Homo sapiens: one gene and its partners. The protein of the gene in region 1 purifies or fractionates together with the protein of each later gene. This does not show direct contact. Each region holds a gene or a part of one and is shown in the gene's direction. Other genes may lie near its edges.

Region 1 (3,955 bases):
GCGTCTTGTCCCCTGCACCTTTTTCCCCCTTCTGTTCTTGCTCTGTCCCCAGATGGTAAAATCCACCCTCAGGCTCACGTCTAGTGCACACAGGGAAGGGACTAAATCGGGATCTCCTGTGGAGGGGAGGGTTTTTTTTTTTAAGGTAAGAATTTATTTGTCTTATATTTATCTAATTTTATTAGAAGATGATGACTGTGGCATCGTCTACATGTTAGCCCCAGTGTTGAAAAAGAAAAGAAATCTGGACCTCCTGATTCATGGTCCCTTTTACCCCAGGGTGGCCATTTCTCAAGATCTGAGCGCAGCCCATCAGAAGACTTGAAGTGACCACAGACAGGGCAGGTCTTGGTGGAGGCAGGAGAACCGCAAGGATGGTATCTGAGAGGATATGACAAGATCAGGGCACATTGAGAAGACCTAGAAATTCCTCCCCTATTTCCCAAGCAAGTTCTGCTTTGCCTGCCCTCCTCCCCACAACCAACTACTGCGCGCCCCTCCTGGCTGCCACTCTGCTGTCCCTCATCCCATTTTCCCAAAGGAGCACGGGGACATCAGGAATGCGCTCCATCACAGAACCGCGACACACAGCCTCTACATAGCGTCTGAGTTGCAGGCAGGGGTCTCACAATCACCCTATTCTGTACGCAAGAGGCCCTTGGAATAAAGAGGAGGTAAGCTGCCCACGCTCAACCCTTTGCCCTGTCGCGTCCTCTTCCTCCTACGGAAAATAGCTGCGGGTCACTGAGACGCTTTTCAACATAACGCCAGCCCCAGAGCTCAGGTGAGACCTCTAGAGAGAAAGCTCGCAGGTACCTCATCCGCATGCTGTTATTATCTGCCAGCCCACTTATCCAGGAGCTCGGTCCTCAGCGGGCTGCGCGCACCGCGCGGAAGGGCGCATCTTCACCTCGTGGCTCTGGCGGCAGAGACGCGCGGGGCTTGCTCGGGAGCGAGGAGCGAAAAGTTGTGCGCCCACTTGGGTAGGGGGAAAGAGAGCGATCGAGCCAGCGCGGGAGAGCGAAGGGGGAAGGCGGGGAGGGGGCGGGGAGGGGGGACTGCTTACATGAATTTCCAAGTGGTAGACCTGCCTCTGCGCTCTGCCCAATGAGATCCGTCAGGGGAGGCACCCGGCTCACTTTTCCACATCACTTCACAGTTACATTTGGCAGGCAGGCGGGCTCGCACGCCGGAGCGCTCAGCCCAGAATTAGTGGATTTATTTGGAATCTCCCTGCCTCCTCCAAGCTCCGCCGCCGCCGCCGGCTTGTGCATAGACGGTAGCGTCAAGACACCAGCTGCACTTTGGGTTGCGGACACCCAGAGCCCAGCGCGCCCGCCCTGCGTCTCCGCACCAAGCCCTGTAGCTCCGAGAGGCATGAACGGAATCCGGAGGCGCCTGCCTAGCGAGCGAGGACCGGTCGGCGCTTGCCGCCCTCGGGAGCTAACCCCGAGCACCTCCAGCCATTTGTGAACCTGGAGGCTTGACATTCGCCAGCGCAGGGCCCCACAAGAGTAAGTGTTCCCCTAACCCACCCCCGTTTTCCTCTATGTTCCGACTATCCAGAAGGGACCGTTTCTTATAGGAATTCCCATGCCCCTTCGGACACCTTGCGCGCCTCCTGCCCCTCAGATGGTGGATGAGGGTTCTTAGCATAGGCTCTGGGCTAAGCTGTGTCTTTCGCGATATCCGTGGGTGATAACGTACGTACGCCTCAAGGTTTTGCCTGACTGTTTTTGCAAACTGCTTTGACAACAGATCCTAGAGAGTAGCAAGCTCCAGGCTGTGCCCCTCCAGTTTTCCTGCCGGTTTCCTTCCCTGCGGCGACTTGGCTATTTCGCCGCTTCCCAACGCAGGCAGGCGCGGCTGCAGCCGCGCGCCTTCACTGCGGGGTCCGTGCGGTGAATGGGAAGCACCTGCAGCCCGCTGTGCGGAGGGTGCAAGCCAGGGAAAAAAGGAGGCGAGGGGGCCCGAGTGGTCTATGGCTGGTTTTCTGCACCGCCTCATCTCCGAGGCGAGGGAGGGCGACCCCCGCGGCAGGGCTGCGGGCCAAGGCTCAGCTGCGAAAGCCCCAGCGCGAGGCTTTCCCACAAGTGGCAGCTCCAGCTCTGGGAGGTGCGGTGCCCGCTACAAACTTGCCGGGCTCCGGAGTCGCCCTGCGGCTCTGCCCTCGCCAAGACGCTGCCCAGCACCCCTGCAGGACCCCCAGGCAGTGTCTCCCCGCAACTCGAGATTGCGTGCACGGAGGCCCCCTTAAGCCGGGGACTCCGTAGCCGCTCTCCTAGGGACAGCTGAGCCCAGACCTGCGCTTTCTGTGGTCTGGCCGCTTCTCATCCGGGAACCTTTGAGGGGCTGGTCGCGCCCCTCGCAGGATCGGAGGGAAAAAGGCTCTTGCCTAGGTTCTGCCAGTACGTAAGAGGTTCATAAGGGACCTACTCCGGTTCTCCCAGGATCCAGCCAAGGCTGGGAAACGGTAAAAAAACGTGCTGCCGCCAACGCTGATGCCAACAGGTATCCACAATTTCCTCCGCTTATTCCTCCCAAACACCAGAGCCTTCCCCCACCCAGTCTGGCAGAATCCTCAAAGTTTCCTTGCGGTTGACCCTTCCCCCGCAGGCACGGAGCCGGCGGCATGTCAAGGACTAGCCGTTTGCCTCCACCAGCGGAGATGGCAGCTGTTTGCTTGGGTTGCTAAATGTAAGAAATCAAACCACATTAATTGTTTATTGTTGCAAACGCACAATATTAGTCCGTAATGGAAAATCGGGCTGGCAGCTGCTCACTTCAGCACCAATTAAACGATAGAGCTTATCACCAAGACAGCGGGAGGGAGGAAAGGTCCTTTCAACTTTACCACCCTTTCCTGAAGATTCCACAAGAGTTTCCTCCTTAGGAGGCATGATTCGACAATCCCTTAGCGCGCCCGAGCTGCTAATCAGATCAGCTGCTTTCTTTCACCTGGCGTCATGATATCTGGGGGCTGACAATGGGAACGAGGGGACGCTAGGGAAGGTAAGCGAGAGTACTGTCCTCTCGCATCCGGTACCATCGCAAAGCAGATCCGAGGGATGGGGGCTGGCTTTTGAAGCGCCTGTTCTCTTTACAACACTCCTGACAGCCATCTCAATGGTTAAAAACCCTCCTTGGGCTGTCACCTCAGGCTTTATTATAGGAGCTTTTCAACTGGAAAACTATATGTGGGAAAGATGTTTATGTAAGATTCGAAAGTGGGATTTTCCATCCATTCAGCCTCGCTGCTGCACCTCACTGCATGCAAAGTGAGCCCTGTCGTTCATGCTAAATACCAGTAAAATCCCTGCCTAGATATTGCTTTGCATCAGCTGTGTCCAGTGTTGCAGGGATTTCTTCGTGTGCGTGTGTGTGTGTGTGTGTGTGTGTGTTTGAGAGAGAGATATATATATGAGGTGGGGGCTGGGAGTGGGATTCTTCTACAGAGAGAAGTGGTACCTTTGAAGGATGTTCTCTTAGGGTTACATTCTTTTTCCCTTAAAGGGAGTTCTCCATAATCATCATGTCCAGACATGTTTTTCCACTTCCCCGAGCTCTGTGGCTGGAATAAATTCTAGAGCTATCCCCCTTATTAAATAATAATTCTGATAATAATATTCTGTAATTCTGCTTTAGCAGATTTGAAGCTCGCTGTCACATAGTCATTTCATGCTGGAGCAGTCACAGTATTTTAAATCGCCTTTGATTTTTTTTTTTCTGGACTCTGAAGAAGGCGAGGAGTTGAGGAAAATCCCTCTGAAAACAGAGAGGGGAGTCTTTCCAGCAACTCCGGGGACTGCTTCATTCAGAGCCCTTCCGTGGCAGTTCACCTTCCTCATTCTGATCCCCACACTCCCCAAGTGAATGTCAAGTTATCCCCTGACCATCGCAAATAGGCCAAATGTTTTAGAGACACTGGCTAATGTGCTCTGAAACTTGTGCTGTA
Region 2 (3,500 bases), on another chromosome or scaffold:
ATGGGGTGCCGGGGCAGGGTTAGCACCTCGATGTTCAGAGGGCAAGAACTTATTGCTGTCCTTGTCAGCTTGGGCCGAAACAGGCCTTGGGGTGGGTGGGTTCAGGACCAGGAGGAAGGCACCCTGGTGTGCTGGCCAGCATGAGCTGAGGCAGAGCTGCTGTGTGTGGAGACCTGCACTCCAGGGGTGACTGAGCAGCAGGCCTGCCCACCAATGTCCCTCCTTGCCCCAGGAGCAGAGCCCAGGCAGCCAGGCCTCACTGGCCACGATGCCGGAGGCACCTGATGTGCTGGAGGAGACCGTGACGGTGGAGGAGGACCCCGGCACACCCACTTCCCATGTGTCTATTGTCACATCCGAAGATGGCACAACCCGGCGCACCGAGACCAAGGTATGGCCAGGCCCAGGCAGTGGGTGGGTGAGCAGGGCCAGGCTGCTGCAGCTGTCCCACCTGCAGAGTGGACATGGAAGCTTGCCACGTGGGGCCTCTCATTGCTCGAGTGGGAAATTAAGGCCAGCCAGACCCCAGCAAAGCAGTTTCTAGGCCTCTCGTGCTACCCCACCTACCTGCCTATCCATCCACCAGGTCACCAAGACTGTCAAGACGGTGACCACTCGGACAGTACGCCAGGTGCCCGTGGGCCCAGATGGACTCCCCCTGCTGGATGGCGGCCCCCCACTAGGCCCTTTTGCAGATGGTGCCCTGGACCGGCATTTCCTGCTGCGTGGTGGTGGCCCAGTGGCCACACTCTCTCGAGCCTACCTCAGCAGTGGGGGTGGCTTTCCCGAAGGCCCCGAGCCCCGGGACAGCCCCAGCTATGGCAGCCTGTCCCGAGGGCTGGGCATGCGGCCCCCACGTGCTGGCCCCCTTGGCCCAGGCCCTGGTGATGGCTGCTTCACACTGCCTGGCCACCGGGAAGCCTTCCCGGTGGGTCCTGAGCCTGGGCCACCAGGTGGCCGCTCCCTGCCCGAGCGCTTCCAGGCAGAGCCGTATGGCTTGGAGGATGACACGCGCAGCCTGGCCGCTGATGACGAGGGTGGCCCTGAGCTGGAGCCTGACTATGGCACGGCCACAAGGAGGAGGCCTGAGTGTGGGCGGGGCCTTCATACCAGGTGAGCTGCACCCCGTCCCCTGTGGCTACCTCCTCTGGGAAGTCTGCCCTCCACCCCCCAACTACAGAGTGCCCCACTTGTCAAGTGGCGCAGTTGAGTTAGTCATGCATGTTAGTTTGAATTGGCCTTGGCTCTCGTCAGGGACAGAAGAAAGGTGGACCCTGGGGTGGTAGGAGTTCGGCTGGGCACTGTCCTGCAGGCCCAGGGCCCAGGAAAGCTGGGAAGAGTGCCGGCCACTGGCCTTGCTCCAGCCACACTCTGGGTAACCAGAACCCAGAGCCCTGGCCCTTGTCACAGCCCCTGGTTCTGTCCCCATTGCCCTCAGTTTCTGCATCTCTGGAGTGGGGATGTGACCACAGCCCGGGTCAGGATTTTGTTGTGTGACCCTGGCCAAGTCACCTGACCGTCACTCCTAGCCTCAGGGCAGGCGGTTTGATGACAGCAACCCACAGGGCTACTGAGAGCTAAGGAGATCTTGTGCCCCAAGGGGCTGGTGGCCTGAATACTCCTCAGGTGGTCCTACTGGGATGGCTTCATGCGGAGAGGGCCATTTACTCCCCCTACATCCTGGCACAGCCAGAGATGGGCCTCATGGAAGATGGGGTGGTTTTGTGGAAGGGAGGTGAGACGGTCTCTCCAGCAGCCATAGCAGATGTCTCACAGAAACTTGTTTTGCTCGGGATTGGGAAACTGCCCGGTGACAGCAGTGAGTGAGTTTGCTGTCCTGGGAGGGTTGCCTGGGTCCTGGTAGCCGCTGGCTGGGGTTTGGCATTTGGCTCTGAATTGGTTCTCACTGGGCTGGTGCATGACTCTCTGTGTCCCCACCATGCTCCGGGCCAAGATACAGGTGCTCTCAGCCCAGCGCTGCTGGGTGAGTTTGCAGTCCTGAAGAAGGTGTGATGGGGCAGCTCAGAGGCAGGGCTGGCGGCTGCTGTGACGATGTCCACGCGCCCCACTTGCCTGTGCAGGGCCTACGAGGACACAGCAGATGATGGCGGCGAGCTGGCGGACGAGCGGCCTGCGTTCCCAATGGTGACGGCGCCCCTGGCCCAGCCTGAACGGGGCAGCATGGGCAGCCTGGACCGGCTGGTGCGGCGCTCGCCCTCAGTGGATAGCGCCCGCAAGGAGCCGCGCTGGCGGGACCCTGAGCTGCCTGAGGTGCTGGCCATGCTGCGGCACCCCGTGGACCCCGTGAAGGCCAATGCGGCCGCCTACCTGCAGCATCTGTGCTTTGAGAACGAGGGTGTCAAGCGGCGTGTACGGCAGTTGCGGGGGCTGCCGCTGCTTGTGGCACTGCTGGACCACCCGCGGGCTGAGGTGCGGCGCCGGGCCTGTGGGGCACTGCGCAACCTCTCCTATGGCCGCGACACTGACAACAAGGCCGCCATCCGGGACTGCGGTGGTGTGCCTGCCCTGGTGCGCCTGCTGAGGGCTGCCCGGGACAACGAGGTCCGTGAGCTTGTCACTGGTGAGTGGGACCTGGCCATGCTCACATCCCCTGGGAAGAGAAGAGTGTGAGGCTCAACCCGGGAGGAACGAGGCCACTCGGCCTGCGACCGCCTGGGAAAGCACCCGGTAGGCAGGAGTGCAGCTGCTGAGACGCTTGCCCCAGGAGCCAGGCATCAGGCCCAGACACTGTGACAGGTTCCCCAGTCTCTACCATAGCAGGGAGGCTGACGCTGCGCCCCTCGGGCATGTCCCCTCACCTCCTGCCTTCACACCTCCTGCCCCCACAGAAACTCTCCTGGGACCCACCTCCTTGGTTCCCACCCCAACCGTGCAGTGGTGGGGCTTGTGCCTTGTGAGAGCTGAGGGACAGGTAGGGTCACCGTGTCTCTGTGAGGCCCTGTGGCCTCAGGAGTGTTAGTGCCACCTGCCACATGGCAGGGAATGGGTGGGACGGGACAGCACTGCCACACCCTCCTCTGCACCTCCTCCCCTTTGGGGCTCCTTCCTAGCTGGAAACCAGTACTGGGTGTCCCCCGGAACCACTCACGGCTTTTGTTACTTCCTACTGTTCTGCATGAGCTGGGACATGAGGAGAGTGGGACAGGTCCTGAGCGTGGCCACCTGGGGAGGTAGGCAGGCGGTGCATATGGTCAGCACAGATTGGCCAATCGCACCCCACAGGCACCCTGTGGAACCTGTCATCCTATGAGCCCCTGAAGATGGTCATCATTGACCATGGCCTGCAGACGCTGACCCACGAGGTGATCGTGCCCCACTCAGGATGGGAGCGTGAGCCCAACGAGGACTCCAAGCCACGGGACGCCGAGTGGACAACTGTCTTCAAGAACACGTCGGGCTGCCTGAGGTGTGGACCAGACCTGGTGCTAAAGCCCACATGCACACCAGGCCCCGTCCTCGTGGTCCCAGATAGTGTGGAA
Region 3 (3,500 bases), on another chromosome or scaffold:
AAACTTAATGATGAGCTGCCATTAGAGGCTGTCAACAACAACAAAGCAGGAACCCTATTCTGAAAATGATAATTAAGGGACACTGATGTGTTGAGCAAAAATCAGAAGTTTGGTTTCCCATTTGTAACAGTAATTGAATATGGAGGCAAGTAGGGCCTCAGAAGACTGACGTTTTCAGGTTTTCTGTCTGTTCATAACTAACTGTATGGCCCATGCAATCAATTTACCTTCTTGGTGGCTTGGTTTTTATATTATCTCAGCAATATTTTATTGAATGCCTCTTATAGGCCAGCCACTTTGCTAATGACTAAAGAGCCACTGAATAAGAAAACTAGGGCTCCCTGCTGTCATTAGAGGTACGTTATAGAAGAGAAATATATGCTCAAAAAATACAGTAAAGTAGGAAGTGTTAGTGATAGGAGAGGAAGAGTGTCTTGTGGGAACAGATGAAAGGGGACACAGCTTAGAAAGTTGGGTGGAGGATGTGCCAAGTCAGTGGAGCCCTGTCAGGTGAAAGGGTAGGGCAGAGGAGGAAAGCTCAGGCATTTCACATAGAAGGGACAGTAGGCCAGGTGTGGTTGCTCATGGCTGTCATTCCAGCACTTTGGGAAGCAGAGGTGGGAGAATCCCTTGAGGCCAGGAGTTCAAGGCCCACCTGGGCAACATAGCCAGACCCCACTTCCACAACTTTTTTTTTTTTAACTAGCCTGGTGTGGAAGCATGCACCTGTAGTTCTAGCCACTTAAGAGGTTGAAGAGGGAGGATCACTTGGGCCCAGGAGATGGAGGCTGCAGTGAGCTTTGATAACACCACTGTACTCCAACCTAGGTCACTATAGAGACCTAGCTGTCTCTATAAAACAGACAAACAAACAAAAGAGTATATGCAAAGGCCTGGCAGCTAGAAACAGCACAAGGGTTTCTGAAGTTCAGTGTGTTACTAAGAGTCTGTGACTCCAAACTGTGTTGCAAATATTTCTATGCAAATTTCATGTGTGTGACAGCTTTCATGTGTTACACACACAGGAGCTGAAGGATCCTCACTGTCGGGATGAGATGGCAGCCGCCCGAGGGGCTCTGAAGAAGAATGCCACAATGCTGTACACGGCCTCTCAAGCATTTCTCCGCCACCCAGATGTCGCCGCTACGAGAGCCAACCGAGATTATGTGTTCAAACAAGTCCAGGAGGCCATCGCCGGCATCTCCAATGCTGCTCAAGCTACCTCGCCCACTGACGAAGCCAAGGGCCACACGGGCATCGGCGAGCTGGCTGCGGCTCTTAATGAGTTTGACGTAAGCATCCTGGTGAGGTACACAGAGGGGTGGGCACTGGTGTTGACAAAAAAAAAAAATGTATTGAGGATGAAGGGCCACTACAATAATTTACATTGATTTTTCTCTTTTGGAGGTTTTAATAGTAAGATAAACTACATAATGCATTTCTGTAATATATTGGCTAAGCCATTATCACTTGTCTTTAAAGAAACAACTGTGGCTGCGGTGGCTCACCCCTGTAATCCCAGAACTTTGGGAGGCCGAGGTGGGTGGATCACCTGAGGTCATGAGTTCGAACATGGAGAAACCCCGTCTCTACTAAAAATGTAAAACATTAGCTGGGCGTGGTGGCGCATGCCTGTAATCCCAGCTACTCGGGAGGCTGCGGCAGGAGAATCGCTTAAACTCGGGAGGCGGAGATTGCGGTGAGCCGAGATCGTGCCATTGCACTCCAGCCTGGGCAACAACAGCAAAACTCCGTCTCGGGGAAAAAAGAAGAAACAACTGTATTTAAGAGTGCCCAATCCCTTCCAGGTAGATGAGATAACTTACAGGCTATTTTAGGGACAGTTCATAATTTGACGATCATCTTTATTATTAAAGGGGCACATGTTATGGGCAGCCTAGATGTACGTTGCCTCTATGTTGTGCCTGCGTGAAAAGCTGCCATCAATTTCTTTGTTTTAAATCAGTGATAAAGTACATTGCCCTATGATCCCACACAGGACCCTGGTCTTCATTAGAACAGACCCTCTGGGGAGAGCCTGTGTTAGTTCTCTGAAAGTCCTACATTCTACACTGGCTGTTTCTGTAGGTGTGTCCTGGTGAGGGAAGAAGCAAGGAGGATTGTTCACTGTGCTGAGCCATATGTGAAGCATCAGTGTGAGTGAGAAGGTTGCACGCATGTCATCAGCACCCCGGGATGACAGCCCCCATTCCCCCCGGGTCAGAGGACCTGTGAGAAGTTGGAATTTATTTATCTTATGATCAATGAAAGCCTACAAAGATTTATAAATAATTAGCATCTACTTTCCAGGGTTAAATAACCCTGCAGGGGAGATGAGGGAAGTAGAATGCACTAAACACCATTTAATTGATAAAACACAATGTTACAGGAATTCATAGAAGAAAAATAGGTTACTTAATGGTCATGAAGAAAGATGATGAGCTTGCTTTTGAATATGTTGATGTGAATTTTTGGCAAGAAATAACTAGTTAGCAGCTGGAAAAAAAGGTCCAGGAGCAAAGCAATGATTGTTCAAGGCTTGGAGATGGATGATATAACTGAGGAATAATTTTAACAGTTCATACTCAAATAGTTCTTACCATTTTCATAGTGGTCTCTCCTCTTTCCCATATTTTTACAGTTAGTTATATGTATCTCACACCATATATTATTTCCTAAGGTTTTTTTTGTGAGGATTAAATATGATAATATATTTAAAGCACTTGCTACAGAAATGAAGACTTAATAATAGGTAATTTTATTCACAAAATTGCAGCGAGCAACTGAAAATTCATAGAAAATAATGAGAGTTCAAAATAATGTTTACTTTATATAACATAAATATACAAAAATCTCTAGATTTTCATCATGTAAAATAAAGTAGAATAACGAGGAGATATTCACAAAACAAATAATTTTTAAAAAGTTAATTTTATTTTATTATTTCTTATATCTGCTAGAAATAAGTCTAATATAGATGTGAAGGACCTAAAAAGTCAAATTATATTACTTTATTGAGGGACAAGTTTTACTTGTCAGTAAATGATATCATGATCTTGAGTAGGAGAACTATTGATCCTATCAGTTTTCATAATGTTGAAGCAATCTCAATACAAATTCTAAGAGGATTCTTTTGGAACTTGACAGAGGAGTGATAAAGGATTTTTGTTTGTTTGTCTTTTTTTATATTCTAGAATAAAGAATGAATGAGCCCATATTTCAGGGAAAAGTAAATGAGCAGGTCATACACACAGATATTAAAACATTGTAATGCTACATTAATTTTAAAGGTGTGTATTGAAACACAAATGGACTCATCCATGAAAGAATAAAAATCATAGGCAATCTCAAATACAAAATTATTTTATAAATTGGTGTTTATTAAAATTAGTTAAGAATGGATTATTTAGTCAGATTTTGACACAATTACATTATTCTAGTTATAATTTATTTTATAATCAAAAATAAACAACAAAACCTAAGTGAGGAGCTGGTTAAGA
Region 4 (3,389 bases), on another chromosome or scaffold:
AAGGCCAAGTACAAGACTCCCACATACCCCTACCTGCTTCCCAAGTCTACCAGCACGGCCAATCAGCTCCCCTTCACACTTCCAGGAGGGCAGTGCACCACCGTACAGGTGAGGCCCCCCACTTCAGCCAGCCCTCCCCTTTGTCTCCTTCAGCCTAACACCCCAACCCACTCTCCCTGGTGTGAGAGCTGCCCACACTCTCCTTTCCTGGGGTTAAGAAGCACATCACGGCCAGGCACGGTGGCTCACGCCTATAATCCCAGCACTTTGGAAGGCCAAGGCAGGCGGATCACAAGGTCCGGAGATCGAGACCATCCTGGCTAACATGGTGAAACCCCATCTCTACTAAAAATACAAAAAATTAGCCGGGCGTGGTGGTGCGTACCTGTAGTCCCAGCTACTAGGGAGGCTAAGGCAGGAGAATCGCTTGAACCCAGGAGGAGGATGTTGTAGTGAGCTGAGATCACGCCACTGCACTCCAGCCTGGGCAACAGAGTGAGACTCCATCTCAAAAATAAAATAAAAGGCCAGGCGCAGTGGCTTACGCCTGTAATCCCAGCACTTTGGGAGGCCGAGGCAGGCGGATCACGAGGTCCGGAGAGCAAGACCATCCTGGCTAACACCATGAAACCCTGTCTCTACTAAAAATACAAAAAATTAGCCGGGAGTGGTGGTGCGTACCTGTAGTCCCAGCTACTTAGGAGGCTGAGGCAGGAGAATGGCGTGAACCCAGGAGGAGGAGCTTGCAGTGAGCGGAGATCATGCCACTGCACTCCAGCCTAGGCAACAGAGCGAGACTCTGTCTTAAAAAAGAAAAGAAATGAAGCACATCGCATTCACCATTCCCTAGGTCTTGCGATCAGTGGACCGCTGGTCAGCAGGGACTCTGGAGAACTCCATCCTCAATGCCTACCTGCACACCATCAGGGAGAGCCAGCACTTCCTCTACATTGAGGTCTGACTGGGAGGAGGTGGGGGAGAGCATGGAAGGGGTGTCCCAGGAGAGAGACCTGGGGAATGAGTGGAGTCAGTCATTGAGGGCTGGTGGAGCAGAAGCAGACGCCTGGAGCCTGGGACCAAGGCTGGAGGCCGAGGACAGGGCCAGGGGCCAGGCTGCTGATGTCTGTCTCTGATTCTTGCCCCAGAATCAGTTCTTCATTAGCTGCTCAGATGGGCGGACGGTTCTGAACAAGGTGGGCGATGAGATTGTGGACAGAATCCTGAAGGCCCACAAGTAAGGTGGACTGTCAGGAAGGTGGGGACTGTGGGTGTGGTTTGAGCCCGGTTGAAGGGGGTGGGGTTTGAGGGACCAGTCGCACCTCTGACTCCACCCCCTCCCCAGACAGGGGTGGTGTTACCGAGTCTACGTGCTTTTGCCCTTACTCCCTGGCTTCGAGGGTGACATCTCCACGGGCGGTGGCAACTCCATCCAGGCCATTCTGCACTTTACTTACAGGTGACCCCCCAGGCGGACTCCAGCTCTCAGTGGCCCCATCCCACCCGTGTCCCCCTCCTGATTCTGTCCTGATCCCTTCCTGCTGGGCCTTAAAGAAGGGCCACCTCTCCTGACCTCCCCTCCCCTCTGCCAGCCTCCACTTCTCTCCCTCTTTCTTTTCTCTCAGGACCCTGTGTCGTGGGGAGTATTCAATCCTGCATCGCCTTAAAGCAGCCAGTGAGTGCTGGGGGCTGGGGGCTCAAGCCCTGGGCCCCTGGGAGAGGGAGATTGGGGCGCTGCAGGCCTGGGGGTGGGGGAAGGAGGCTGTCACTCCTGTGAGCCTCTGACGCTACGCAGACCATAGCTGGCCTTTCACTGCAGGGAGAAGGAGAGAGACCAGACTCTATGTAGGAAGAGTTTCTGGAGTGAGAGGAGGTGGGACAGGGCCCTGTGCACACAGAGCCACCTCTCACCTCACTTCCCCTCCTGTCACGCAGTGGGGACAGCATGGCGGGACTATATTTCCATCTGCGGGCTTCGTACACACGGAGAGCTGGGCGGGCACCCCGTCTCGGAGCTCATCTACATCCACAGCAAGGTGCTCATCGCAGATGACCGGACAGTCATCATTGGTCAGTGCCGGATCTAGTCCTCTGGCAGGGAGAGGGTGTGGGGACAGGCGAAGAGATGAGAGGCAGGATGACAGAGACTGCAGCTGAGGCTCGTGTAGGGGTGGAGGGTCCAAGAAGGAATGTTGCAGGCCAGTGCTTTGGTAGAGGGGATGGGGTACTGGGGAGAGTGCCCTGGGCCCAAGCACACAGTGTGCCCCGCATCCACCCCAGGTTCTGCAAACATCAATGACCGGAGCTTGCTGGGGAAGCGGGACAGTGAGCTGGCCGTGCTGATCGAGGACACAGAGACGGAACCATCCCTCATGAATGGGGCAGAGTATCAGGCGGGCAGGTTTGCCTTGAGTCTGCGGAAGCACTGCTTCGGGTAGAGCTGGGGCGGGATGCCACAGGGTGGGAGGGAGATGGGGGCGTCTGCCTTTTGAGCAGGACAAGAGGTAGCACCGCATAGGTACTCCCGGAGCCAGAGGTAGAGGCAGTACTAGATTCTCAATAGGCAAGGCTGGGCGCGGCAGCTCACGCCTCTAATCCCAGCACTTTGGGAGGCCAAGGCGGGTGGATTGCCTGAGGTCAGGATTTTGAGACCAGCCTGGCTAACATAGTGAAACCCGTCTCTACTAAAAATACAAAAAATCAGCTGGGTGTGGTGGCGGGCGCCTGTGATCCCAGCTACTAGGACTAATCAGTTTAGAGTATCAGTAAAGCAGGAACACCAAAAAACAAAAAGAGAAAAAAATCTTTTTTTTTTGAGACGGAGTTTTGCTCTTGTTGCCCAGGCTGGAGTGCAATGGCGAGATCTCAGCTCACTGCAACCTCTGCCCTGGGTTCAAGCGATTCTCCTGCCTCAGCCTCCCGAGTAGCTGGGATTACAGGCATGCGCCACCACGCCCAGCTAATTTTGTATTTTTAGTAGAGATGGGGTTTCGCCGTGTTGGTCAGGCTGGTCTCGAACTCCCGACCTCAGGTGATCCACCCACTTCAGCATTCCAAAGTGCTGGGATTACAGGCGTGAGCCACTGCACCTGGCCACGAAAAAGAAATCTTTTTTGTTGTTGTTGTTGTTGTTGTTGAGACACGGTTTCACTCTTGTCGCCCAGGCTGGAGTGCAATGGCACGATCCTGGCTCACTGCAACCTCCGCCTCCTGGGTTCAAGCAATTCTTCTGCCTCAGCCTCCGGAGTAGCTGGGATTACAGGCGCCCACCACCACGCCCAGCTAATTTTTGTATTTTTAGTAGAGACAGGGTTTCGCTGTGTTGGCCAGGCTGATCTTGAACTCCTGACCTCAGGCTTCGGCCTCCCAAAGTGCTGGGATTACAGGCATGA
Region 5 (4,110 bases), on another chromosome or scaffold:
TACAGTTTTTCTCTGTAGTTAACAAGCCTCCCCACCATTTTCCCTGAAATAGCCAAACTCTCAGCCTCATCTAGGCCACAGGATGTGTGAGACACAAGCCTCCTTACACAAGCCAAAGATTGTAAAGGCATCCTTGACTCCCACACAATCGGTAATAGGGCCTATTGCTTCCATTGGCCAAATGTATCTTGACACAAACCAGTCTTGTCCTTTCTGCAGATCTCCATAGCCACTTGGACTACTGTGGCCGCTCCCGATTTCCTGTTCTTTCCTCTCTCCACTTCCTTCTGCATCCAGCTGTCAATACTGTCATCTGAAAATGCAGATCACATGGCTCTGCCCTGCTTCCATGACTACTTAGAATACAGCTCATCTCCAGTATGGTCTGCGGGGTCTCAGTTCATACCACTCTCTGTGGTGTACTTTGCTCCAGCCTCACTGGAAGAAAATGTTTGCTTGCTATAAACACTTGAGAGGTGCTCTGTGTTTCTCCCTTTGGGTAAAGCTTTCTAGGCTGGTCCTAATCTGGGAGCCTCTAAAACTCTGAGATGTGGAGCGAGACAGGAACTGGGCAGGGGCCACCCTTTTCTCTTTGACCATCCCCAACTGCTTTTTTTCTTGCTTTACTTTACTCACTTGTCTTCCACCTCAGCCTGCAGTGAGTGGCTTTTGTCATCAGGCATTAATAACGCAAAGTGCCTCAGAGCAGAAGAGTTAACTATTTGTTTACTTAGCTAAAAACATCTGGACTTTTCTCCATAGCCAGGCTCCTGCTTGCTGAGCCGGCTTGTTCTCACCTCGAGGGGCATGGGCCTCCACCCTGCCGTTTGGGGTGAGGGGATCCTTGGCCAGGGTGGTTTCCCCGCCGTCATAGGAGGGAAGTCAGTGGGAGGCTCAGAAGGCCTTGGCTATACAACCAGTGCCATGCGGCGCAGTCAGGGTCCCATGGACGACTTCCATCAGCTCACCCGCCTCCATCCCCAAGCAGAGTGTAGGCAAGGGCTGTGACTGCCTCAGGTAATTGGGTGATTTTGCTCCAGCAAGAGGAGAGGAAGCATGTGAGTGCCACACTGAACCTTTCAGAAACAGCCGTGGGGTCGGGGGTGCTTGGGCCAGGCCAGGATACTTGGTGTTAAGCCTGCTCTCTCTTCAGTGCCCCGACTCGGCTTGCAAGCAGGACCTGCTGGCCTACCTGCAACGCATCGCCCTCTACTGCCACCAGCTGAACATCTGCAGCAAGGTCAAGGCCGAGGTGCAGAATCTCGGCGGGGAGCTTGTTGTCTCTGGGGTAAGCATTAGCTGAACAAAAAGAGGGCCAGTGGGAACGTGCTGACCCTTGTCAGAAATGAAAGTCACCTCCTATCCGCATAAACACCTGCCCTGGGAAAGTGTGCTGTGCAGAAACTCCAAGTCCTGTCCCAGTCTCTGGAGACCAAGGTCTGTCCATCATCTGTTCCCTGTAGAACTGTGACACCTGCGGGGCACTGCAAGGGCTGAAAGGCTGGCCTCCTCCCCTTTGCTGGCCACTCACTGGGTAGGAATTTTTAAAAATCTTCCTTGGGACCGGGCGTGGTGGCAGGTACCTGTAAGTCCCAGCTACTTGGGAGGCTGAGACACAATAATTACTTGAGCCTGGGAGATGGAGGTTGCAGTGAGCCGAGATGGCACCACTGCACTCCCGTCTGGGCAACAGAACAAGACTGTCTCAAAACAAAACGAAACAACAAAACAAAACAAAACTTCCTTTTCTTCCCCCAGAGAGGAATTAAGAGTAGACATAGATAGGGTGTTTTCTCAAAAGCCCTTCACTCCTCAGAGTGCTTGGGTAGCGTCTCTTTCTTTTTACCACATCACAGTTCTGAGGCCTTTCTCACCTAGGGCAGGGGAAAGAAGAGGTTTGCTGAGTGGATTGGGGTCCACCGAGCCTCCATGGCTTCTCTTAATCCCACTGAATTTCCTTTAAAAGAAACACTTCTTATATTGAACATATTGAGACCATTTGCTCATCTGCTTTGCCATAAACATCCCTGTCTCGATTCCTGCTTCTCCTCCCCCACGTGCTTACAGCTCTGGGATCACTTACAGTGACTTCCAGTTGGTTTGAGTGAATAAACACTTGCTGAGGGGTGGGGGTGAGCAAGGCGAGGTTGCCTCATGTCTTCTCCAAAGGGTCTGAGGGCAGGCGCTTCCAGGCTATTTAGATAAGAGCAGCCGTTGAGGGTGTTCTTCAGGAACAGGCTGCTGCCCAATCCTCTGCGACCTGCCCAGGCCCTGGTCTTGCAGAGGAGTAGGGGGCTCCCCTTCAAGCACAGCCCACCTGTGTCCACGAGGCTGGAGGTCAGGCCGGTGCTTCTTACCACCCCTGTCTGCCTCGTAGGTGGACAGCGCCATGTCCCTGATCCAGGCAGCCAAGAACTTGATGAATGCTGTGGTGCAGACAGTGAAGGCATCCTACGTCGCCTCTACCAAATACCAAAAGTCACAGGGTATGGCTTCCCTCAACCTTCCTGCTGTGTCATGGAAGATGAAGGCACCAGAGAAAAAGCCATTGGTGAAGAGAGAGAAACAGGATGAGACACAGACCAAGATTAAACGGGCATCTCAGAAGAAGCACGTGAACCCGGTGCAGGCCCTCAGCGAGTTCAAAGCTATGGACAGCATCTAAGTCTGCCCAGGCCGGCCGCCCCCACCCCTCGGGGCTCCTGAATATCAGTCACTGTTCGTCACTCAAATGAATTTGCTAAATACAACACTGATACTAGATTCCACAGGGAAATGGGCAGACTGAACCAGTCCAGGTGGTGAATTTTCCAAGAACATAGTTTAAGTTGATTAAAAATGCTTTTAGAATGCAGGAGCCTACTTCTAGCTGTATTTTTTGTATGCTTAAATAAAAATAAAAATTCATAACCAAAGAGAATCCCACATTAGCTTGTTAGTAATGCTCTGACCAAGCCGAGATGCCCATTCTCTTAGTGATGGCGGCGTTAGGGTTTGAGAGAAGGGAATTTGGCTCAACTTCAGTTGAGAGGGTGCAGTCCAGACAGCTTGACTGCTTTTAAATGACCAAAGATGACCTGTGGTAAGCAACCTGGGCATCTTAGGAAGCAGTCCCTGGAGAAGGCATGTTCCCAGAAAGGTCTCTGGAGGGACAAACTCACTCAGTAAAACATAATGTATCATGAAGAAAACTGATTCTCTATGACATGAAATGAAAATTTTAATGCATTGTTATAATTACTAATGTACGCTGCTGCAGGACATTAATAAAGTTGCTTTTTTAGGCTACAGTGTCTCGATGCCATAATCAGAACACACTTTTTTTCCTCTTTCTCCCAGCTTCAAATGCAAATTCATCATTGGGCTCACTTCTAATAACTGCAGTGTTTCCCGCCTTGGGCTTGCAGCAGAAAAACCTGACAACATAGTGTTTGCTAAGGCAGTAATTTAGACTTTACCTTATTTGTGATTACTGTAGTGATTGATTGATTGATTACTATTAACTACAAGGTATAATTTACTATCACCTTATTTAAATTTTATGAATTAATTTGAATGTTTTTTACACTAACTAACTTTTCCCAATAAAGTCCACTATGAAACCACGACATCCAAGAGCCCAAAGTCGTCTTCTCTGCCTTCAAGTCATAGATTTGCCCGCAGTATCTGTGGTGCTCTGGGCCCTCCCGGTGTCCGTCTCTTCCAGGATGGGGATGCCCGGGAGGGAAACTGTCTGTGGCTCTAGGCTGCACGGCTCGTGCCAACCCATCAGGGAGGGCCATGCCCGTTGTCCTATTGAGTGCCCCACCCTGCACCCCCACCTTGGGAATTCACATGTCCATTCCTTGAGGTTCATGTCAACCTCGGAGGCATCCCTGTCTTCATTATAGCTGACCCCTCTCCTGCGTCCTTCTGTCAGCATATCCCTTCTGCATCCTTCCCGTCACACATACATACCAAGCTATGATGATTGATTGATAGTGGCCTTCGAGATGAAAACCATCCTTAACCCCATGATCCTTCCCAGCTGGCATCCCCACCCTAAGCAAGGTTCCCTAAAGAGAAGCTTGTTGACATTTTCTCCCCTTCCTCACTTACAGTCAGCTGTCA
Region 6 (3,500 bases), on another chromosome or scaffold:
CGGCCTCCCAAAGTGCTGGGATTACAGGTGTGAGCCTCTGTGCCTGGCCTAGAAAGTTTTGTTATCTGTTGCAACAAGGTTCCCCCTTTTGTTTTTCAACATTTTCTTGACAATTTTCATGAATTTTATTTCAAGATGAACCTTACGTAAGGGAACTTGTAGCCCAGACCCTTGTGGCATTGTAAGTAGCTTCTGAGTGGTGCCTCTCTCATGGGCCTCTTTGTGTTTCTCTGGCCAGAGTCCTTTGAATATCCCTAGGCTGGTGATCCTAAAGCTTGGGCTTCTCCATCTCTTTCCAATCCACATGTTTGGAACATGTTTTGTTTTTTTCTTTTCGGAAGCTATAGGACCTCCTTCTTTTAGTCTCTAAAGACCCAAGAGAAGTTAAACCTTAAAGCTTTTGTATTATCTATTTCTGTGTAGCCAATTACCGCCAAATGTAGCAGTTTAAAACAATACATGTTTACCATCTCATAGTTTCTGAAGGTCAGGAATCAAGGGCACTTTAGCTGGGTTGCTCTGAGTTTCCCATAAGGTGGCTGTCAGAATGTTGGCAGGGCTGGAGTCAGCTGAAAGCTTGCCTGCGCTAGAGGCTCCGCTTCCAAGCTCACTCACATGGCTGTTGGCAAGAGGCATCAGTTCCTCACCACAGGAGCCTCTTCATAAGGCTGCTCAGGACATGCCACCTGGCTTCTCTCATAGTGGGTGAGCTGAGAGAGAGACCACGACAGATGCTGCAGTATCTCTTATAGCCTATCTCAGAAGTGGCATACCATTACTTGTAACATACTTTTTGGTTTATACATTCTGTGATATGGAGAGGGAGGCAGCTAGACAAGGATGTGAATACCAAGAGGTAGAGATTATTGGGGGGCAACTTGGAGGCTGGCTACCAAAGTCTTTGTTGGTAAATCTTGTGGGATTTTTTTGGTTTTGATTTTTTGTTGTTGTTGTTAAAACATGCTTCAAAATTAAGAAATTATAAAAGGTGTGTGATGACAAGTCTTCCACCCCTGACCCCTAGTTACCCAGTTCCCTTTCTTCCAGCCAACAATTATTTTTAACATCTTTATTATACTTCCAGGGGGATTTTATACTGATACAAGGAAATGTACATAATATTTTTCCTCTTTTAACATGAATGATAGCATGCTGTACAGCTATTTTGCACCTTGCTTTCTTCACTTAATGATACAGCTTAAAATGGTTCCGAATTGGTGCATAATCATTTCCTTACCTTTTACAGCTGCATAGTATTTCACAGGGGTGTTGTAGCATGGTTTACTTACCCATTTTCCTATTTTTTGGTTATTCTAATTTTTGACTATTACAGTAACAATATGGATTATGTCCTGTGTGTGAGTAATATCCATGAAGTCAGTTCATGGAAGTGGAATTGCTGGTTCAAACATTAGTTTCAGTTATAGTTTTCATGGATAATTACCAAATTGCCCTCCCCATGGACTGTGCCAGTTCTCTTGGCAGCAGTATATGAGAATATCTATTTGCACATACTCTTACCTACACAGAGTATATATCAAACCTTTGAATCTTTGCTACTTTGAGAGACAATTATATCTGTGGTTTTAATTTGAATTCTTCTTATGAGTGAAATTGAACATCTTTTCATATACTTAAGAACCATTTGTATTTCCTTTTCTGTGGTCTGTTCATATTCTGTGCCTATTTGTCTGCTAGTGTTTTCCTTAGTAATCTGTAGGAACTCATTGTTAGAAATTTAGTCTTTTTTGGAGGGGTGGGGGAAAGTTGTTAATATATTTTACATATTTTTTAACATATAGGGTTATTATATGTTTTACTTTTTTATTGTTTTGAAACAATACAGTATCAAACTTTGAAAAAGTTGCAAGTGCAGTACTACAAACTTTTTTTAGTAGCAGTTGAGATTAAGTTGCTGACATGATGCTTCACCATCCCTATTTAGTGTATATTCCCTTCAGATACAAACATTCCACAAAGCCTTCTACATAATCATAGTACAGCCTTCAGAATCGTGAAACTAATACTAATGGTTTTATTATCACGCCTAGCAGTCTCTCTGCTTCTTTGACCCTAAAGGAGAGGAGCACACACTCTAGAGGTAGACTTCCTAGGTTCAAATTCCAGCTCTGGGCCTGGTGCGGTAGCTCACGCCTGTAATCCCAGCACTTTGGGAGGCCAAGGCGATGGATCACCTGAGGTCAGGAGTTCGACACCAGCCTGGCCAACATGGCAAAACCCCATGTCTACTAAAAATACAAAAAATTAGCCGGGTGTGGTGGCACGTGCCTGTAATCCCAGCTACTCGGGAGGCTGAGGCAGGAGAATCGACTGAACCTGGGAGGCAAAGATTGCAGTGAACCGAGATTGCACCACTGTACTCCAGCCTGGGCAACAAGAGCAAAACTCCATCTCAAAAAAATAAATAAATAAATAAATAAATAAATAAATAAATAAATAAATAAAAATTCCAGCTCTGCCACTCACTAGTTGTAGGTCTTTTGGCAAGTCACTCAATCCTACTATGCCTCAATTTCCTTATCTCTTACAAAGGATGTAATAATCATGCCTCCTTTGTAGGTCATTGTGAAGATTAGATGGTTAATGCTTAGAATAGTGGTTGCTGCAATGTGAAAACCATGTTGGTGTTCCTATCATAATAATATTATTAGATGAAGAATAGTTGATAAGATTAAGTTTTAATGTTTTCTAGTAGCCATGGATGAGGTTATCAGAGTTCATAGACTACAATGTAAACTACAAATTGTTCAGCTAATCCAGGATATACTTTTGTTCTTCTCTTTTTAGATTCCAGAATGACTATCTTGACTTACCCCTTTAAAAATCTTCCCACTGCATCAAAATGGGCCCTCAGATTTTGTAAGTTTATTATTATTTTTTTATTTTTAGAGATTGGATTTGGATTTATAAACATCTCGCACAGATACTGAATGGTATTGCTTTTTGTAAACAGTTTATTTTGTCTTCCAGCCATAAGACCTCTGAGCTGTTCCTCCCAGCTACGAGCTGCCCCAGGTACAGTAATTTGTAAAATAAATATTTCTGATTTAAATGTTAGATTCCAGATTCTATAGTTTGTGAACTCTGAATAAAAACCAAAACTAATTTGCTAATTCTCCCCTTTTTATGAGCACATGAACATCTCTGTTGCCTTCAAATTAAAAAATTATAGGTCCAATCAATAATGATACTACATTATTTAGGATTAGGCTTGAGGATGTTAATGGGAGGCTGTTTTCTGGGATTTGAACCTGCTGGAGTCATGGAGGTTCCATAAACCTCGTTGGTCAGTTTATTTATCCTCTTGCTGTCCGTCCTGGAGGTGAATGGCATACAAATGCTCTTGAGACCTGCTATGGAACCAAAAGTTAACTTTAAATTTGCAATTTGTGAAATGCTTCTCTATTGATGAATATCTTCTTCTCCCATGTGCAAGAGGGCCCATTCCTGAAATAGAAGTGATTAGGAACTAGTTAATA
Region 7 (3,500 bases), on another chromosome or scaffold:
TGAGTTTCTTTCTTTCTTCTTTTTTTTTTCTTAAACTATAGCTGGTATTTGAATGTTGCTAGAAGCCTTTCTTCTAGTATGCCATATAAGCAGCCCTAGCTGAGTTCTATTTTTGTTAAGCTTAAAATTCTTTTTAAAGACTTTGTCAAAACTATCAGGTTTCTCACAGTCTTCTCTAGTTTCAATATGAGAATTTTATTTTATTTTATTTTTGGGACAGAGTCACTTTTGTTGTTCAGGCTGGAGTACAGTGGCATGATCTCGGCTCACTGCAACCTCTGCCTCCGGATTCAAGCAATTCTTGTGCCTCAGCCTCCCAAGTAGCTGGAATGACAGGTGTGCCCCACCATGCCCAGCTAATTTTTTGTATTTTTAGTAAAGACAGGGTTTCACCATGTCGGGCCAGGCTGGTCTCAAACTCCTAACCTCAGGTGACCCGCCTGCCTTGGCCTCCCAAAGTGCTGGAATTACAGGTGTGAGCCACCGTGCCTGGCCAGAATTTTACATATTATATATATGATAGAAAAAAACCCCTCAGAATAACAGAAATGTACAATTTTAGGAAACATGAAATTCTTTACCTTATTAGTATAAGAATCCTATATATTGAATTAAGAGATAAAGACATTTTTGCTTCAGCTAGAGGTATCTAATCCCCAAAGTTACCCAAGTGTATATCAGTATATTAAATATAACTTATCTATGCTGTTGACAAATAGCATAAACATATGGCTTGACTTTTCTCATTTTAATATTTGTTCATTTGATGATTTGTAAACTATATAATTATCACCCTGATTTTTTTCCCCCTATATTCTCATCCTTGCTTGCCTGTTAGGTGGGTGTGCCTGCTGCTTTGGACATGATGCTGACTGGTAGAAGCATTCGTGCAGACAGGGCAAAGAAAATGGGACTGGTTGACCAACTGGTGGAACCCCTGGGTAAGTGTTAGCACATCTCAGAGTCAGACCTTATAAAGTTACTTATTTTCTTAAAGAGTTAACCTCTTAGGCCAGGCACGGTGGCTCACACCTGTAATCCCAGCACTTTGGGAGGCTGAGGCGGGAAGATCACTTGAGGTCAGGAGTTTGAGACCAGCCTTGCCAACATGGCGAAACCCTGTCTCCACTAAAAATGATTAGCCGGGTGTGGTGGTGCAAACCTGTAGTTCCAGCTACTTGGGAGGCTGAGGCAGGAGGATCGCTTGAACCTGGCGGGGCTGAGGTTGCAGTGAGCCAAGATCATGCCATTGTGCTCCAGCCTGGGCAACAGAGCCAGACTCCCATCTCAAAAGAAAAAACAGTTAACCTCTTGAATATCACAGGAAGCACAGAGAGAAGCTCAAACTCTTAAGAAATGAGTCATTATTCTAAGGAAGGAAGTTTTATAAAATAGCTAATACTAAATCATTTTCAACATCACCCTGATTTTTATTTTGCTTTATAATTAGAACATTAGGAGTACAGAATTCAGTCAAGTCATTATTTTTGGTTCTTAAATTACCTGTATCATTATCCATGCATAACCTTCCTTCAGTTTCTTGTGTCTGTTTTAGTAATATAATAAATGAAACAACCAACCTGAGAATATTAACAATAATTGATATCTACTGATGGGCTACTTCCTCCCATTCAGTTTCTTTGCCTCCCTTTATCCAAAGAAGCCACTATTCTGACTTGTGTGTTCATTACCCTCTTATATTTATTGAAAATCAGCATTATTGAGATATTACTTACATAATAGTAAATGTATTAATTTTGTGTGTGTGTGTGTGTGTGTGTGTGCGCGCGCACACATGTTGGGGTCTCACTCTGTTGCTCAGACTGGAATATGGTGGTGTGAATATAGCTTGTTGCAACCTCAACTTTTTGGGCTCAAATGATCTTCCCACTTGTGCCCCCCGAGTAGCTGAGACCACAGGCATACGCTGCTACACCAGCTAATTTTTTATTTTTTGTAGAAACGAGATCTCACTCTGTTTTCCAGGCTAGTCTCAAACTCCGGGCTCAAGTAATCCTCCTCCCTCAGCCACCCAAAGTGCCGAGATTTACAGGTGTGAGCCACTGTGTCTGGTGAAATTGACCAACTTTTAATGTATAATTTGAGTTTTGAAAATGTATATAGCTGTGTAAACACTGCCACAATCCAAAAATAGCCGTGCATGGTGGCTCACACCTGTAATCATAGCATTTTGGGAGGCTGAGGTGGGAGAATTGCTTGAGGCCTGGAATTCAAGACCAGCCTGGACAACAGAGCAAGATCCTATCTCTTAAAAAAGAATTTTTTTTTTTCAATTAGCTGGGTATCATAGTGTATACCTGTAGTCCCAGCTAGTCAGGAGGCTGAGACAGGAATATTGTTTGAGCCCAGAAGTTCAAGGCTGTAGTGAGCTATGATCACACCACTGCACTCCAGCCTGAGCAACAGAGTGAGATGCCATCTTTTAAACAAAAATTTTTAAACATTTCTGGTATGTAGTTTGTTTTAATCTTCGTTCACTTAGCATAATGCTTTTGAGATGCATCCATACTGTTGCATATATCAGCAGTTTGTCCTTATTGCTGAGTGTTACTCCATTGTAGAAATGTACCATAGTTTGTTTATCCGTTCACCAAATGATGAGCATTTGAGTTGTTTCTAATTTAGGGCTATTCTGAATAAAGCTGCTATGAACATTCATCTTTAAGTCTTTATGTGGGCGTGACTGGGCGTGGTGGCTCAAGCCTCTAATCCCAGCACTTTGGGAGGCTGAGGCAGGCTGATCACCTGAGGTCAGGAATTCAACACCAGCCTGACCAACATGGCGAAACCCCATCTCTACTAAAAATACAAAAATTAGCTGGGTGTAGTGGTGTGCACCTGTGGTCCCAGCTACTTGGGAGGCTAAGGTAGGAGAATCACTTGAACCCAGGAGGTGGAGGTTGCCGTGAGCCAAGATTGTGCCACTGCACTCCAGCCTGGGTGACAGAGCGAGACTCTGTCTCAAAAAAAAAAAAAGTCTTTATGTGGACAAATGTTTCATTTCTGTTGGGTAAGTACTGAAGAGTGGATTGGCTAGTCCATATAACAGATATATATTAGCTTTTGAAAAAAAAAGTTTGGCCTGAGCAACATAGCAAGACTCTGTCTCAACAAAATAAAAAGTTTTAACTAGTTGGGTGTGGTGGCACATGCCTGTAGTCCTGGCTACTAGGGAGGCTGAGGCAGGAGGATTGCTTGAACCCAGGAGTTTGAAGTCACATGGAGCTATGATCAGGCCACTGCACTCCAGCCTGGGTGAGAGAGGGAGACCTTATCTCTGGGAAGAAAAAAAAAAAATTTAGAGATGAGACTTTGAGTCTTGCTCTGTCACCCAGGCTGGCCTCAGACTCCTGGGCTCAAGCAGTCTTCCTGCCTCAGCCTCCCAAGAAGCCGGGATTACGAGGCATATGCCACTAGTATTTGCTAGGTATGTGTTTGCTTTTCTGTCAGACTGTTTTCCCAAAGTGGTTATACTCTTT

The links.
Region 2: the proteins of CDH8 (region 1) and ARVCF purify together in Homo sapiens (co-immunoprecipitation; 3 studies listed by BioGRID and IntAct, with this or other methods). This does not show direct contact.
Region 3: the proteins of CDH8 (region 1) and CTNNA2 purify together in Homo sapiens (co-immunoprecipitation; 3 studies listed by BioGRID and IntAct, with this or other methods). This does not show direct contact.
Region 4: the proteins of CDH8 (region 1) and PLD2 purify together in Homo sapiens (affinity purification with mass spectrometry; 2 studies listed by BioGRID and IntAct, with this or other methods). This does not show direct contact.
Region 5: the proteins of CDH8 (region 1) and CTNNA1 purify together in Homo sapiens (co-immunoprecipitation; 3 studies listed by BioGRID and IntAct, with this or other methods). This does not show direct contact.
Region 6: the proteins of CDH8 (region 1) and HADHB purify together in Homo sapiens (affinity purification with mass spectrometry; 2 studies listed by BioGRID and IntAct, with this or other methods). This does not show direct contact.
Region 7: the proteins of CDH8 (region 1) and HADHA purify together in Homo sapiens (affinity purification with mass spectrometry; 2 studies listed by BioGRID and IntAct, with this or other methods). This does not show direct contact.

What each region holds. Positions count from the first base shown.
Region 1 is NC_000016.10:62,033,639-62,037,593, reverse strand, and holds the start of CDH8 (cadherin-8 isoform 1 preproprotein), read left to right. Parts: upstream 1-1,155; 5' UTR 1,156-1,514; intron 1,515-2,407; exon of another isoform or gene 2,408-2,511; intron 2,512-3,955. UniProt on the Homo sapiens protein: Cadherins are calcium-dependent cell adhesion proteins. They preferentially interact with themselves in a homophilic manner in connecting cells; cadherins may thus contribute to the sorting of heterogeneous cell types.
Region 2 is NC_000022.11:19,978,824-19,982,323, reverse strand, and holds part of ARVCF (splicing regulator ARVCF), read left to right. Parts: intron 1-232; coding exon 233-391; intron 392-586; coding exon 587-1,113; intron 1,114-2,081; coding exon 2,082-2,581; intron 2,582-2,631; exon of another isoform or gene 2,632-2,932; intron 2,933-3,243; coding exon 3,244-3,427; intron 3,428-3,500. UniProt on the Homo sapiens protein: Contributes to the regulation of alternative splicing of pre-mRNAs.
Region 3 is NC_000002.12:79,873,051-79,876,550, forward strand, and holds part of CTNNA2 (catenin alpha-2), read left to right. Parts: intron 1-1,025; coding exon 1,026-1,292; intron 1,293-3,500. UniProt on the Homo sapiens protein: May function as a linker between cadherin adhesion receptors and the cytoskeleton to regulate cell-cell adhesion and differentiation in the nervous system. Required for proper regulation of cortical neuronal migration and neurite growth.
Region 4 is NC_000017.11:4,817,152-4,820,540, forward strand, and holds part of PLD2 (phospholipase D2), read left to right. Parts: coding exon 1-108; intron 109-850; coding exon 851-955; intron 956-1,145; coding exon 1,146-1,234; intron 1,235-1,342; coding exon 1,343-1,456; intron 1,457-1,622; coding exon 1,623-1,672; intron 1,673-1,932; coding exon 1,933-2,067; intron 2,068-2,277; coding exon 2,278-2,431; intron 2,432-3,389.
Region 5 is NC_000005.10:138,931,425-138,935,534, forward strand, and holds the end of CTNNA1 (catenin alpha-1), read left to right. Parts: intron 1-1,153; coding exon 1,154-1,288; intron 1,289-1,463; coding exon of another isoform or gene 1,464-1,534; intron 1,535-2,377; coding exon 2,378-2,665; 3' UTR 2,666-3,610; downstream 3,611-4,110. UniProt on the Homo sapiens protein: Associates with the cytoplasmic domain of a variety of cadherins. The association of catenins to cadherins produces a complex which is linked to the actin filament network, and which seems to be of primary importance for cadherins cell-adhesion properties.
Region 6 is NC_000002.12:26,251,439-26,254,938, forward strand, and holds part of HADHB (trifunctional enzyme subunit beta, mitochondrial isoform 1 precursor), read left to right. Parts: intron 1-2,808; 5' UTR 2,809-2,816; coding exon 2,817-2,880; intron 2,881-2,991; coding exon 2,992-3,036; intron 3,037-3,500. UniProt on the Homo sapiens protein: Mitochondrial trifunctional enzyme catalyzes the last three of the four reactions of the mitochondrial beta-oxidation pathway.
Region 7 is NC_000002.12:26,227,633-26,231,132, reverse strand, and holds part of HADHA (trifunctional enzyme subunit alpha, mitochondrial precursor), read left to right. Parts: intron 1-838; coding exon 839-941; intron 942-3,500. UniProt on the Homo sapiens protein: Mitochondrial trifunctional enzyme catalyzes the last three of the four reactions of the mitochondrial beta-oxidation pathway.